4 linked regions of the Homo sapiens genome follow. The protein of the gene in region 1 purifies or fractionates together with the protein of each later gene. This does not show direct contact. Each region holds a gene or a part of one and is shown in the gene's direction. Other genes may lie near its edges.

What was found. The genes of interacting proteins can lie anywhere in the genome.
Region 2: the proteins of F12 (region 1) and ACAD10 purify together in Homo sapiens (affinity purification with mass spectrometry; one large-scale study listed by BioGRID and IntAct). This does not show direct contact.
Region 3: the proteins of F12 (region 1) and NEDD1 purify together in Homo sapiens (affinity purification with mass spectrometry; one large-scale study listed by BioGRID and IntAct). This does not show direct contact.
Region 4: the proteins of F12 (region 1) and ATXN2 purify together in Homo sapiens (affinity purification with mass spectrometry; one large-scale study listed by BioGRID and IntAct). This does not show direct contact.

Annotation. Positions count from the first base shown.
Region 1 is NC_000005.10:177,406,765-177,411,056, reverse strand, and holds the start of F12 (coagulation factor XII preproprotein), read left to right. Parts: upstream 1-1,492; 5' UTR 1,493-1,529; coding exon 1,530-1,586; intron 1,587-1,953; coding exon 1,954-2,011; intron 2,012-4,292. UniProt on the Homo sapiens protein: Factor XII is a serum glycoprotein that participates in the initiation of blood coagulation, fibrinolysis, and the generation of bradykinin and angiotensin.
Region 2 is NC_000012.12:111,745,053-111,748,552, forward strand, and holds part of ACAD10 (acyl-CoA dehydrogenase family member 10), read left to right. Parts: intron 1-1,091; coding exon 1,092-1,232; intron 1,233-1,996; coding exon 1,997-2,134; intron 2,135-2,242; coding exon 2,243-2,333; intron 2,334-3,264; coding exon 3,265-3,423; intron 3,424-3,500.
Region 3 is NC_000012.12:96,945,257-96,948,756, forward strand, and holds part of NEDD1 (protein NEDD1), read left to right. Parts: intron 1-436; coding exon 437-593; intron 594-3,500. UniProt on the Homo sapiens protein: Required for mitosis progression. Promotes the nucleation of microtubules from the spindle.
Region 4 is NC_000012.12:111,515,816-111,519,315, reverse strand, and holds part of ATXN2 (ataxin-2), read left to right. Parts: intron 1-888; coding exon 889-1,067; intron 1,068-2,952; coding exon 2,953-3,162; intron 3,163-3,500. UniProt on the Homo sapiens protein: Involved in EGFR trafficking, acting as negative regulator of endocytic EGFR internalization at the plasma membrane.

The DNA of each region.
Region 1 (4,292 bases):
ATGCTTATCTCTGAACCAATCACTGTGGATTAGAGATGTCATGCTCTGATTGACCAGACCTAGGCCACATCTCTAGCCCTAGCTCTGAGGGTAGAGTTGGCAGCACTAGAGCCCATGGAAGAAGTAAGAGAGGAGTCGTTGCTAAAGGAAAAATCAAAGTGTCATTACCGAACCAGGACAGATGCTGGGCAGCACATGTGCACCCCGTCTTCTTCTCATGTTCCAGCTGCACATCTTAGTGCCCCTTGGTTTAGCACTTTTCTCATTAAATCATTTGCTTTCTTGCCTCACTTCCTGTGGTTGGTAGAATGCTAAGATGGCCCCAAGATCTCTACCCCTGGTGTTTGCACACCTCCCAGTTATTCTGTCAAACATGAATGTAGATGCTTCTGTGAAAGAATTTTGCACATGTAATTTAAGTCCCAAATTGTTTGACCTTAAAATAAGGAGAATGGCAGGGCCAGGCATGGTGGCTCATACCTGTAATCCCAGCACTTTGGGAGGCCAAGGCGGGCAGATCACGAGGTCAGGAGATCGAGACCATCCTGGCTAACACAGTGAAACCCCATCTCTACTAAAAATACAAAAAATTAGCTGGGCGTGGTGGCGGGTGCCTGTATTCCCAGCTACCCAGGAGGCTGAGGCAGGAGAATGGCGTGAACCCGGGAGGCGTAGCTTGCAGTGAGCCAAGATCGTGCCACTGCACTCCAGCCTGGGTGACAGAGCCAGACTCTGTCTCAAAAAAAAAAAAAAAAAGGAGAATGGCTTTGGTGGGCCTGACCTAGTCAGGTGAGTTCTTAAAAGGCGACACATGGCCCGGTGCAGTGGCTCAGGCCTGTAATCCCAGCACTTTGGGAGGCCGAGGCGGGTGGATCACGAGGTCAGGAGATCGAGACCATCCTGGCTAACATGGTGAAACCCCGTCTCTACTAAAAAGACAAAAAATTAGCTGGGCGTGGTGGTGGGCTCCTGTAGTCCCAGCTACTCGGGAGGCTGAGGCAGGAGAATGGCGTGAACCCGGGAGGCGGAGCTTGCAGTGAGCGGAGATTGCGCCACTGCACTCCAGCCTGGGCGACAGAGCGAGACTCCGTCTCAAAAAAAAAAAAAAAAAAAAGAAAATTAAAAGTGGGTATTGTTGTAAGATGCTGAGTTTATGGTAGTTTGTTACATGACAATAGAAAATGAACACACTTCACAGTGGACTCCAAGATCCCCATGATCTTTGATCTCCTTAACCTCCTGATCTCCACAGGACCCAGAGCATAAGAATGTCCCTTCTTCTGCTTCCAGTCCCACTATCTAGAAAAGAGAGGAGGAGCCCAGCTCTTCATTTCACCCCCACCCACAAACTCCCAACTTTCCGGCCCTCAAGGGGTGACCAAGGAAGTTGCTCCACTTGGCTTTCCACAAACAGCCTGTGCCCCACCAGGCTCAGGAGGGCAGCTTGACCAATCTCTATTTCCAAGACCTTTGGCCAGTCCTATTGATCTGGACTCCTGGATAGGCAGCTGGACCAACGGACGGATGCCATGAGGGCTCTGCTGCTCCTGGGGTTCCTGCTGGTGAGCTTGGAGTCAACACTTTCGGTGAGTGCTGTGGGAACCAGGATTGTCCCAGGATTGTTCTGGGGGGTCGCTATCACAGCCATGAGCCATGGCCTCTGCTCATGACCTGTGGGTCCAGGTGACTAGGAGGCCTATGTGGAAAGGTGAGGCCAGCCCGGAAGGCCCAGGCAGAGGAGACAGACAACCAGACTGGGTGGATACAAGGGCACAGCCTGCATTTCTGGGGGAGATGGGCCTTAAGAAGACAACGGGGGGAGGTAGAAAGGGTTTGGGTCTTGGGAAGAAATCTCTGCATTTCTGGGCTGTGAGAGGAAGCTGCAGACTAGCAACAGATCGGTGGCAGGCTATGACTTATAGTCAGTTCCCTGCCTTCTTCTCTCCCTTGTAGATTCCACCTTGGGAAGCCCCCAAGGAGCATAAGTACAAAGCTGAAGAGCACACAGTCGGTAAGTGGCCTGGCTCCTCCTCCCGGGAACCCTTGGGTGGGGATGTGTATGGTGCAGTGTGTGCAGTCTCAGGGCAGTCTAGTCTAGTGCCTACCTGGTGCTAGGTCTTATGCCCATGGGCACTAGAGTGATCGTGAGCTGTGTGATCCTTGAGGGCAGGGTATGGGCTGTGTCTAAGTGCCCACGAGCCTGGCTCGGAGCAGGTGCTTGAGATATGTGCTGCTGGCGCCATCACACCTGGGCTCCTGCCAGCCTTCCTCAGTTTCCCCAGCTTCTCCCCTTCTTTTCCTTTCCCCAGTACGTCTCATGGGCATCATTCATGCCACACAGAGGCCAGGGCCTTCAATGGGCAAGGAAGGATCAAGAGCTTGTCTCTGGCATCTGAATGCCTCTGAAGCCCAGCTTTATCACTTATGAGCTGGGTGACTCTGGGCGAGGGATTTGAGTTCTCCAAGCTTCAATTTCCCCTTCTGTGAAACCAGGTTGATAACAGTAAACCTCTTAGGGTTGTTGAGAAGGGAAACCCATGTGAGGTATTCAGCCCATCACCTGGTGCATGGAAATGCTTTACAAATATTAGCTTTTATTATGAAACTACCTTTTAGATGAAGGGTACCTGCCATTTCCCCCTTCCTCAAGCTCTGCCATAGCTCCCCATTGCTTTCATTCTTCCAGACACTAAATTACCTACATGCCAGGCATGGTGGCTCATGCCTGTAATCCCAGCACTTTGGGAGGCCAAGGTCGGTGGATCATGAGGTCAGGAGTTCGAGACCAGCCTGGCCAACATGGTGAAATGCTGTCTCTACTAAAAGTACAAAAATTAGCCAGGCATGGTGGCATGCGCCAGTAGTCCCAGCTACTCGGGAGGCTGAGGCAGAAGAATTGCTTGAACCTGGGAGGTGAAGGTTGCAGTGAACGAAGATCACACCATTGCACTCCAGCTTGGGCAACACAGCAAGACTCCGTCTCAAAAAAAAAAAAAAAATTTACCTAGAGTGTGGCACATAGCAGGGCCTGTGAACCAGATGGACCTTACCCTGGTGGGCCTGACTTGGTGGGGTTGAGTCTCTAAGCATGGCGTTGAGGCCCAGCACATTCCAACCCTGGACTCCCTCAGCCTCCTCTCTTCACCCCACACCCAAAAGTTTCTCCTCTCTCTTGCCTTACCCAAACTTGGTGCCCTATCCTTGCCTAATCCCCTGCCTAAGGTCCCCCTCCTCTCTGTCCGTCCATCCCATCTGCATCTTTTTTTTTTTTTGAGATGGAGTCTCGCTCTGTCCCCTAGGCTAGAGTGCAATGGCGCGATCTTGGCTCATTGCAACCTCCGCCTCCTGGGTTCAAGCGATTCTCTGCCTCAGCCTCCCGAGTTGCTGGGATTACAGGCACACAACTTCATGCTCAGCTAATTTTTGTATTTTTTAGTAGAGACAGGGTTTCACCATGTTGGCCAGGCTGGTCTCGAACTCCTGCCCTCAGGTGGTCCGCCCACCTTAGCCTCCCAAAGTGCTGGGATTACAGGCGTGAGCCACCGCGCCTGGCCCCCATTTGCATCTTAAAGGTCCATCTCAGATCCATTTCCATTTACTGTCCTAGTTCTGGTTTGGTCCTTGGCAAGTGCACTTTGCCTTGAACAAAATAGTGGCAAAAGCTTATTGAGCAGGTACTTTGTGCCAGACACTGCTCAGCATTTCATGGCATTATCTCATGAAGCCCCACGACAATTCCTCTGAAGAAGACACAGGCAATTCTCATTATTCGCGATGGTTATGTTCTATAAAATCACAGTGAACATTGAACTAGCAAACAGTATTAGGTTCCTGTGAGCCTCTGGTCACAACATTTTCATCAACCAACAGCATATAATCTGGTTTTATGTATGATTCTGTTTAAAGACATTTTATTTAGTATATGTGTTGCTGATTCATCAATGCTAAGCTGATGGCACTATAGCACACACCTGAATCAAGTGTCTAACACACGCTTTCTCCCTAAGGTAGCCTTCTTGTGCTTAGGAACTACACAGCTCTTCAGCAGGAGGCTCAGAGGCCATTTCCAAAAGCCAAATCCCCAGCAAAAGCACAAAGTGTGAAAAACGTTGCACTAAGTAGACTGAGAAGGACACTCATTCAATAGGAGAGCTGAAACAAGCAGCAGCAGCGTGACGCCTTGTTGAACCTTAACTGGGAATGTGCAAATTTTTCACTGCTCTGTGCATGCCCACAAATGGCCATGAAAACATTTCAAGTATTGACTTGGGAGTTACAAATAAAATTCAGCA
Region 2 (3,500 bases), on another chromosome or scaffold:
CCATGGTGAGGTGGTAAGACCCCAATACCATGGCATACCCTCCCCGACCCCACCGGGCTCACCTGAACCATCCCAGGCAGTGAAGATACAGGAGCTCCGAGTTGAATGATCTTTGCTTCCATCGTCTCAGAAAGAGCCAGCTCTTCATGACTCAGTTTCCATCTCTTGCTCTTGCTGTGCCTGTGTCACAGGCAGATGGCTCAGGTGTGACTGCACAGCCCAGGCAGTGGAATGCTTGGCCTTAGAAAGCCAGGGCAGGTTAGGCCTATCTGATGGGTATTTGAATTATGTAAATTTGAAACAGTGCTGTATCAGCTAATAAATCTCTCTCTAGAGAACCCGTAATATCACAGCTAGAGGGCCAGATCCACTGTGAGCTGAGTTTCTGTGTTGTCTCCCAGTGCTGTCACTTCAGCTGATAAACAGAAACACCCGCTGTTCCTTATCACGTGAACCTTGGATTGTGTTAGTTTTGAAATTACTTGAGATCTTCAGGAGCATAATGCAATCATCATCTACTTTTCTTTTTTTCTCTTTTTTTTTGAGACGGAGTCTTGCTCTGTGCAACTTCCGCCTCCCAGGTTCAAGCGATTCTCCTGCCTCAGCCTCCCGAGTAACTGGGATTATAGGCACGTGCCACCATGCCCAGCTAATTTTTGTATTTTTAATGGAGATGGAGTTTCACCATGTTGTTCAGGCTGGTCTTGAACTCCTGACTTTGTGATCCGCCCGCCTCGGCCTCCCAAAGTGCTGGGATTACAGGCGTGAGCCACCATCTCTCTCTTTTTTTTTTTTTTTTTTTTTTTTGAGACAGGGTCTCGCTTTGTCACCCAGGGTGGAATGCAGTGGTGTGGTCATAGCTCACTGCAGTCTCAACCTCCTGGGCTCATGTGATCCTCCCACTTCAGCCTCCTGTGTAGCTGGGACCACAGGCACAGCCACCATGCCCAGCTCCTCATATCATTTTTTTGGGCACACGTGCATGTTTGGTTGTCTGCCTTGTTTCCTCCAATCCCTTTCATTGTTTTCCACGGTTCAAAATAAAATGAAATCTTCCACTGTGGTTTCCTGACTTATTTTCCCCATGATAGGAGAAAGCCAAAGCTGAAGGACTTTGGAACCTTTTCCTACCCTTAGAGGCTGATCCCGAGAAAAAATACGGAGCAGGACTGACCAATGTGGAATATGCACATCTGTGTGAGCTCATGGGCACGTCCCTGTATGCCCCCGAGGTACCTTCTTTAAAGTTTTCCTCAGTGTGTGGGAACATCCTGATCTTCATAAGAACTCAATCCTAAACAGATAAACCAGATTCAGAAGCACTGGCATGAACTTGAACTTTTTTTTTTTTTTGAGATGGAGTCTCGCTCTGTCACCCAGGCTGGAGTGTAGTGGCGAAATCTTGGCGCACTGCAACCCCTGCCTCCTGGGTTCAAGTGGTTCTCCTGCCTCAGCTTCCCAAGTAGCTGGGACTACAGGCATGTGCCACCACACCTGGCTAATTTTTGTATTTTTAGTAGATACAGGGTTTTACCATGTTGGCCAGACTGGTCTCAAACTCCTGACCTCAGGTGATCCACCTACCCTGGCCCCACAAAGTGCTGGGATTACAGGCGTGAGCCACCATGCCCATCCAATTTGAAGCTTGAAATATTAATGTGAGAAGGCCAGGCATGGTGGCTCACACCTGTAATCCCGGTACTTTTGGAGGCCGAAGTGTGGGGGATCACTTGAGGCCAGGAGTTCGACACCAGCGTGTGCAACATAGAACTCTGTATGTACAAAAAAATAAAAAATTAATCGGGTGTGATGGTGCATACCTGTAGTCTCAGCTGCTTGGGAAGCTGAGGCATGGGAGGATGGCTTGAGCTGAGGAAGTCGAGGCTGCAGTGAGCCATGATCGTGCCACGATACTCCAGCCTGGGTGACAGAGCTTGACTCTGTTTTTTTTAGAAGAGGACATGACAGTCATGGTCACGCTCCTTTTCCTTCTCAGGTATGTAACTGCTCTGCGCCTGACACGGGCAACATGGAGCTGCTGGTGAGGTATGGCACCGAAGCGCAGAAGGCTCGCTGGCTGATTCCTCTGCTGGAGGGGAAAGCCCGCTCCTGTTTTGCTATGACCGAGCCCCAGGTACGTCGCCTGGGCTGCCACCCACTTGCCTGGCCCTGTTGTTGTCGGCCCCACAGGGAACACGGGCTGTCTGCTGGCGTCTCTGACTGGAATATGCTCCCCACTCAGGTTGCCTCTTCAGATGCCACCAACATTGAGGCTTCCATCAGAGAGGAGGACAGCTTCTATGTCATAAACGGTCACAAATGGTGGATCACAGGTATTTGGCCTAAAATGCACTTTCCAAATGCACATCAGGGAGTCTGTGCTGTTAGGCGCGTCTCTCAATGCCTGGGAGGAGCCTCTGCTTTTTCAAGTTGACACAAAGGAGATTCTGTCACTTAGCGCCCCCAGCAGAGGCAGCTGGGAGAATAGGAGGGTAATCCGTGGAGCACACTGTTCTCAGAGGTGGCACTTCACAGGGCAGGGACGTCCCCCGGTGCCCACACATGGACGGATGCCTCCCTGCACATGTGACCCCAGGAATCTCTCCACTTCCTGCTGTTCATTCTGCTTTGGGCAGCTCCCCTTCCTTGGTGGCTTCCTGGCTCCTCGATCAGGTGTGTTACATCCTAAGGGCTAATGACAATCCTGACTTTTAGGGATTGTCCAGTGTTACTTTTGCAGGGCCCCTACAAGTAGCCGTGGAGCTTACCTCCCGGAGCCCATACCTCCCTGGACATTAAGAATGAGCATCCCCATTTTGCAAAGGAGGAAACCGCACTCAGACTTAGGTCCCTTGCCTGGGGTATGAGCCCCCAGCCAGCAAGTAGAGAACCCAGAGTCAAAGGTTCACCTGATTCCAAGGCCCGGGCCCAGAGCCGTTATGTGTGCACCACCTGTGGGAGCCGAGCCAGCTGGCAGGGATCAAGTAGCGGTTTTCATCCTCTTGTCTCTAAATTATATTTTCTACTCTATGTGATGCTTTTAAAAACTTGCTCTTATGATGTTGGATTCATTCCTCACTGGGACAAAACCCAATTTGCTCTTATTTCTGGTCAGCAGTCTGCAGATGCTCATCTGATTACATGGAGCCTTAAAGAGCTCTGTCTGCTTCCTTACTGTGCCTTTCTTGGGCCAGGACCACGTGTGTAGAGATTTGATGGCCCTGGTGTCAGATGATGGGGTCTGTCTCTCTCCTTTCCTGGCAGGCATCCTGGATCCTCGTTGCCAACTCTGTGTGTTTATGGGAAAAACAGACCCACATGCACCAAGACACCGGCAGCAGTCTGTGCTCTTGGTTCCCATGGATACCCCAGGGATAAAAATCATCCGGCCTCTGACGGTGTATGGACTGGAAGATGCACCAGGTGAGACCTCCAGGGGCGGGTCACCCCTGGGTGTGGGTCTGGTCCCCAGGAAACACCACTGAGGGGCCCCTGCTCTT
Region 3 (3,500 bases), on another chromosome or scaffold:
TATATTTTGCTTGAAGTTTTCTGTGGATATATATTGCATTAGCTTAAACTCTAAGGCTTTTCCTGTAGCAGTACTTTACTCCTATTTTCCTTCGGTTTGTTTTTAATAGTCTTGGTTTATCTAGTTTATGGTGCAGCTTGTCACATTCATCTTTTATAAGAGGAAATGGTTCATAGATTCTTCAAGATTAATCCCTCTGTCATGTGGTATTACATTAGACAGCTGGCAGTTTATATATATAGATAAATGACTATTAGAAATAATGTTATAGAAAGTTTCTAAGATTTGTATTCCAGACAGTGAATTTTTCTAAATGTCACAGGAACACTCTTCTTTGCCAGTTTTTCAAGTTTGCACATGCCAAATCTTATTTAGAAATGTTTGATGTCTCTCAGTCCAAGTTGACTATTAATATTTTCTTCATTCTTTATTTTAGATCCAAAGATAGCATCTTCTGTCACTGCTGGAGTTGCCAGTTCACTCTCAGAAAAAATAGCCGACAGCATTGGAAATAACCGGCAAAATGCACCATTGACTTCCATTCAAATTCGTTTTATTCAGAACATGATACAGGAAACGTTGGATGACTTTAGGTAGTAATTGAGAAACTACTCCTTCTATCTAGACCTTACTTGTTTTTTTTTTAGATGTAAAACCAGAACTATAGATAATGTTGTTGGTTACTATTGTCTAGGTTCTGGTAATCCTAAAGCCATAGAAAACATAATGAGTTTTGTTGATCTTTTCGTACTGCATTTATTGATTATGAGCCAGGAAAAGGCACATTTACCTAGGGCAATTATTAGGTAACTCAGCAGGGCAGTCTAGCAGGTAGACTGCCATTGTGAACTTTTTTTATTATTAAAATGTGGACAAGTTCTGGTAAGCTTAAATTGGGTTCTTAACCTGCAGTATGTTCATAGATCTATTAGGTATGCTGTGTGCAATAATGTAGTAGAAAAAGATACTTTAAAGCACAATTCTGAATGTTTTCCAATAGAATGCATCAGAATGTAATACTTAATCTAAAAAAAATTCTTTCTCAGACTTATCCTTGTCTGTCTCATCCTTCGAATTGTGAACATTCTAAGAATGTGTTCTACAATGCTGCTTTCTTTTATCATCTCAATATTTTTGGAAGCTATCTTCAATTATTAAAATCATTGGTGCCTTTTTTCCTTTCTAACCTATAGTTAATGTTGTAGCTCAGATTTGGATTACCGTAAGCAAGAATGTTGGAGAAAATGTGCAGTTTTTGTTGGTGCATGCTTCCTTTTAATGTTTTAAAATACTTTTAAAATATATTTTTAAATGTCGAAAAATACTTTTTAAAGAAAAATTGTAATTTTGGCATTTACCCTACCTAGTATATGTACCAGATACTAAGGATACATCAAATGATCTGCCACAAAGGCCTTGTGATGTAGTTGGGCTAGGTGCAGTGTGTTCTGCCATGTGTGTTTCTCTTAATGTGAATTAATTCATTTGGGATCAGTAGAATAGAACACTGTTGACAATATGATGAGGAAATTTTGTTTGTTCGTGTAATAGCAGCCAAAATAAAGTACACCTGAACACAGCTGAATGCAGCAAACCCCGTCAGCATCCATCTCTTTTTATTCACTTCCTCTTGGCTTGGCTGTGTGGTCTGTTAGAAGTACTTATTTTGTGATTATTTCCCATCTTTGGGCATTTTGCTCTTGCCTCTGTAACTTGATAGCCGCAATCCTTCTATCCTCTTCCATTAAGTGACCATCACTTCTTCACAGTAAGGGTATTATTCAATAATTATCTATTAGATTTTTACTATGTCTTTTTAACTATGTTAGTATTTTTATTAGGATTTAATTGTTTTTGTTGTGCTCTGGTTACAAAGTTGCATAGGTTTTTGAGTGCTTTGCCCTAATCCTTTTTCCCTAAGTTCTGTTATTTTTAATACACAGTGTTAAAGAATATACGTTTTTTTCAGGAGTGCATAAATATTTATGGCATAATAGTAGAACTGTCTGGATACAGCTGACTATAATACAGTGTGAGCAAAGTGATGTTGAAATCACAGAAAGGGAGCAGTTCTTCTGTGGGGGCAGATTTAGAAAGGTACACTGAAGAGATTTTATTTTATACTGATGTGTGTGGGAACAGCTTGAGCAGAGACATGATCATACATTCTAGGAATGTTTGCAGAGAGAAGGCACCGTGGTAAGAGACCAGGCCTGAGGGACAGTTGTGAAGGTCTTAACACACAGGTAATGGAGAGCCATCAGAGTTTTTAAGCACAGGAGTAATGGGTGCTGTCTATTTATTACCCATTTATTCAACAAGCATTTGGGTGTCAGTTCACCACTGGCTTCAGATGATTTGAGGACAGTGGGCTCAGGGCCTTTCCTTCAGCAGACCCAGGGATCTGAGTGCTGGAGCAACTCTGAAATCGCTGTGCATTTCTGCCCTGCTGCCAGCTTTCGGGGTGGCTGGAGCTTGTTTTTCACTATCTAACCTGTTCCTGGCTTTCTGTGCCTCAGGAGAAGTGTGTCTGTCCCACTTTCAGCCCTGCAGAGCTGCTGCAGCACGTTTGGTGAAGACGTACAGTCAGTGCCTCTTGGTTTTGCTGCCCTGTGCTGCATGTCTGCACCTAGGAGTGGTGGGTAGGGACTTCTCTCAGCTCTTCTGCCCTTTGACCATAGGCAGCCTCTGCCTGGGACGCAGTGAAGACCCAGAGTGGCTCAGAGGATTTCCATAAATTCACTTGTTTTGCCATTTGCCTAGGTGTTCATCAGACTAGGTGTTCATCTACACCTATCATTGGCAGGACAGAGAGGGTATTGAGGACCTCTTTCTCAGCCATCCTCCCGTGGCTGCCATCTTCTCCATGAGAGCCTGGAGTGCCTTAGAGGGGTTACTCTCAGTTCTTCTCTGCTGCCCTAAGGTTTCACCAGGCTCTGTGCATCTGTATCTTAGGGAGTCTCCCTCAGCCCTCCTGTTACACTTGTCCCTACTTTTTTTACATGAGCGCTGAATGAAGGCTTGTGGGAAAAAGTTGGTGAGTAAATTGAGACTCTCCTTGTGGCTGGGACCCCTTGGAATTCTAAACTATCAAGCAGTGTTTACTTGGCTTTTAAAAATCTTATTAAAATTTCAGCTAGTTCTTTTTACTCTGTCAAGGGCATGAAGATGGGTCTCTTTTCTCCTAGTCATGGGTCTCTTTTCTCCTAAGAGGAACTCCTCATTTTCTGGATTTTAGTTCATTTAGATTTCTTTCCATTCTCAGCTCTCGGTTGAATTTAAAATAATATGATTTTATAGGTTATCAGGTTTGTTTTCGTTATTAGAGTTGAGAAATTATACTTTTGCACCAACCTAATACATCCTAAGTGGAAATCTGTGCATCTGTTTCTGTTGTCTATTAAGAAGATTTAAGTTTCTTTTGGCAAGCAGATCCCTTTGATCCTTTGGTTACTAGGTTCAGGTTTTCTTAGCACTAGTTTGTTTCCAGTTTGCCTTTA
Region 4 (3,500 bases), on another chromosome or scaffold:
GTGCAGCAGTGGCAGTTGATAGTAGGAACTGAGGTCATTAAAGGACTTGGCATGTCATGCTAAAGAGCACCCTGTTGGAAGGAGATGGGGTGAATAAACCCTGGGGCATTGAGGACTGGCTGAGACACAGAGAACAGTTAGTGCACTGAAATAGTTCAACTGTGAGAATTTGGTAACCACCTAGTTAAGGGATGAGCCTGAGGTTTATTTGATAACTAAGTGACTTAATGGATGTACTGGTAAGAGAGAGAGGAAACATGGAGCAAGTTTGAGGGGAAAAACAGTGACTCCGTTTGTGCAGCTAATTGCATATGTGGGCTTGTGGGTCTTTCATTTATTCATAAACGTGTTGAGAAATACCTGCTACCTATCTAGTAAAGTAAGAGATGCATCCTCTCTTAAAGGCAGTCAGCTTAGAGTCTGGTGATTTGAATTGACATGTCCACTGATAGATGTTGACACTGTGAGACTGGCGGTTCAGTTTGAGGTTTCATCAGCATTGCCGATATTGGAGCCATGAAAAACCAAAGAACAGCCAGTGAGAGAAGAGATCTCAGAGAAAATAAAATTGAGAAAGTGAAGGACAAAAAATGTTGTGAAGATAGACCAAGATTGATGGAATCAGCCATAGAGAGGTCAAGTGGGATGAGAATGAGCACGCATCTGTTAAACTTTGTGCTTAGGAGCAGAATCTAAGGGAAGGGACAGTCCAGAGGTTAGAACTCAGGGTAAGATGGAAGAACAGGGGCATCTGGGAGTGAGGCAGTTTGGTTTAGTGTAGAACCTTTTTGTAACAAGCATTCCCTTCTGTCTAGATGACTTTTAGATATGTTTCATTGGCTTGGTACCTTTTAGAATAAAATGATTTAGAGGATCTCTCATTTTCAGGGAAAATAAATATATTCCTCCTGGACAAAGAAATAGAGAAGTCATATCCTGGGGAAGTGGGAGACAGAATTCACCGCGTATGGGCCAGCCTGGATCGGGCTCCATGCCATCAAGATCCACTTCTCACACTTCAGATTTCAACCCGAATTCTGGTTCAGACCAAAGAGTAGTTAATGGAGGCAAGTATTTTGACCAGACTTGTCAATATCATTGATAAAATAGTTTTCTAAATACTTAAAATACTTAAAATAGTTTACATAACTGATATGAATGTGCACTTTAATGATTTGGTGAGTAGCTTTCACTTCAGCATTACTTAAAATTGGCTTTTGTGGATATTAAATTAGTAAAACATTGTATATGTCATTGACATATATATTATTTAGCATGATGAAATATTCATGATGTACTAAGATAAAGTGCTACATTTAACCCAAGACAATCACTTGGCCAAAAACACTTCACATATAAAGAAATTGGAAACTTTGGGTAGGTTCTCAATTTTAAAAACACTGGATAATAAAATTTTTTAGACATAATTTATATGGAAAATTCTAACCTATGTGCAACACTGTGGTTAATATAGATCAATTTTCATTATTTGTTTCTATATTATGCTTACTTCAAGAAAGGATCTGAGGTAACTTATAATACAAGACATGATCAAGAGTCATGTGAAGAAAGTGACTAGAGAAATTTGCTTAAAAAACAACAAAAACAACCCTTAGTCTAAGGGTGGATGTTACAGTTTAGCAACTTAAGTAAAAGAAACCTGAATCTTTAGTAGGAAGACATTTTTTACTCTACCTCTAAATCTAGGTTGAATATATCTTGTAGGTTGTGGATCTTTTCCATAAATCAGGGATACTGAACAACAGTTCTATGGATGGTATGGAAATAGTAATAGCAATAGTATGTTACTAACTTTGTGGGAAAAGAGTGGACATTCAATTTTAGCTATTTAAATTTGGAAAGTTAGATGAAAATAGAGAACACTAAGTTTCCAATTTCATTTGTTTTCATTGAGTCTTTTCTCCAGAATTCCTCTCCAAATGGACACTCTTGAGTATTTTCAGTACTTAATATTGGGGGTGAAATTTCTTTGCTCACTGAGGAAAGATTTTAGTTGTTTATAAACAGAATTTTAAAGTTAAAAAACCTGAAGGGGGCTGAGAAATATATGATACTTAAGTGTGTGGAACCCTATGGAGAGGAGACCTGGACTGTTTGATAAGATTAAGGTAAGTGATATGTAATGTTAAATACTAGCTGTATCTTTACCTAGGCATATCCATCAGTATAAATTTATTTGGTGATGACTGCTTTGTAGTTGCAGTATTTATTAAGCAGTCGCTTAGATAAGTGTTTAACTGTATAAATTATTTAGAAGGTCTCCCTTTTTCTAGTTTAATGAGGTCAAGACTTTTTTTTTGAAATAGCAATGAATATTATCATTTGATACTCACAGGAGTCACAAACTCTAGAAGAGTAATGTTTTATTTCTACTTAAATGGGACTTGCTTAATAAGATTCCAAACTGAGTTCTGGGTTCAAGTGTAAACCTGATGAAAATCATAGATAATTGTAAGGAACCAGCATTTCTAATTGGATATAATAGCTACTGCTTATTTTCGTTATGCCTCAGAGTTAAAACTAATACAGTAAATAATCTTACTCCTGAGTAGGAATTATTGTGATTTATTATGTGAAATTATCTAGTGTATGTTATATTCCTTTAAACAACCAGTTACTGAGAAACAGTTATAGAAGCAGGATTAATAGGCAAAGTCTTAACTGTCTTCTTCAATAGTGTGTATAGATCCTAATTAACCCTTTGGGAACGTGTATTCATTTAAACAGACTTAATCTTAAGGAGGTTAAAGTAAAATGTGAATTTATGTCAGTTAAGTTATGCTAAAACTTATCACAAATCAAATGACTGTCCTCAAAGGGTTAAAATGTACAAGAAATCATTTTTGTCATTTTACTTTTTTTCTGTTTACTTTTTTCCCTCATTTTTTTCTTTAGTTTTTATACTTTCCTTCATATCATTTGTTCTGTCAGGTGTTCCCTGGCCATCGCCTTGCCCATCTCCTTCCTCTCGCCCACCTTCTCGCTACCAGTCAGGTCCCAACTCTCTTCCACCTCGGGCAGCCACCCCTACACGGCCGCCCTCCAGGCCCCCCTCGCGGCCATCCAGACCCCCGTCTCACCCCTCTGCTCATGGTTCTCCAGCTCCTGTCTCTACTATGCCTAAACGCATGTCTTCAGAAGGTACAATACCACAATTTGTTCATGTTTTTGTTTGTCTTTGTTTAACTCCTATGTGAGTTTATAATTACAAAATAGTTTCCTCTTCATTATTTAATAACCTATAATTTCTGTGTTTTAACTTTAGTTTATTAAAACTATTTCTATTAACCTTTTGTTCATTAGAGAGAAATTTGATAAATGTGTGAAGCTATAAACTCTCTTGAATTGTTGTTAAAAAGGGGGTTTATCTCTGCCTGATAATTATGCTTCTTTACAGCCCCAGAAGGGTCTGCCCCACAGCCTTCCCCCTCCTTATTTGCACTGTATACAGTAGTTAAACAAATGAACTTTCTTCAGCC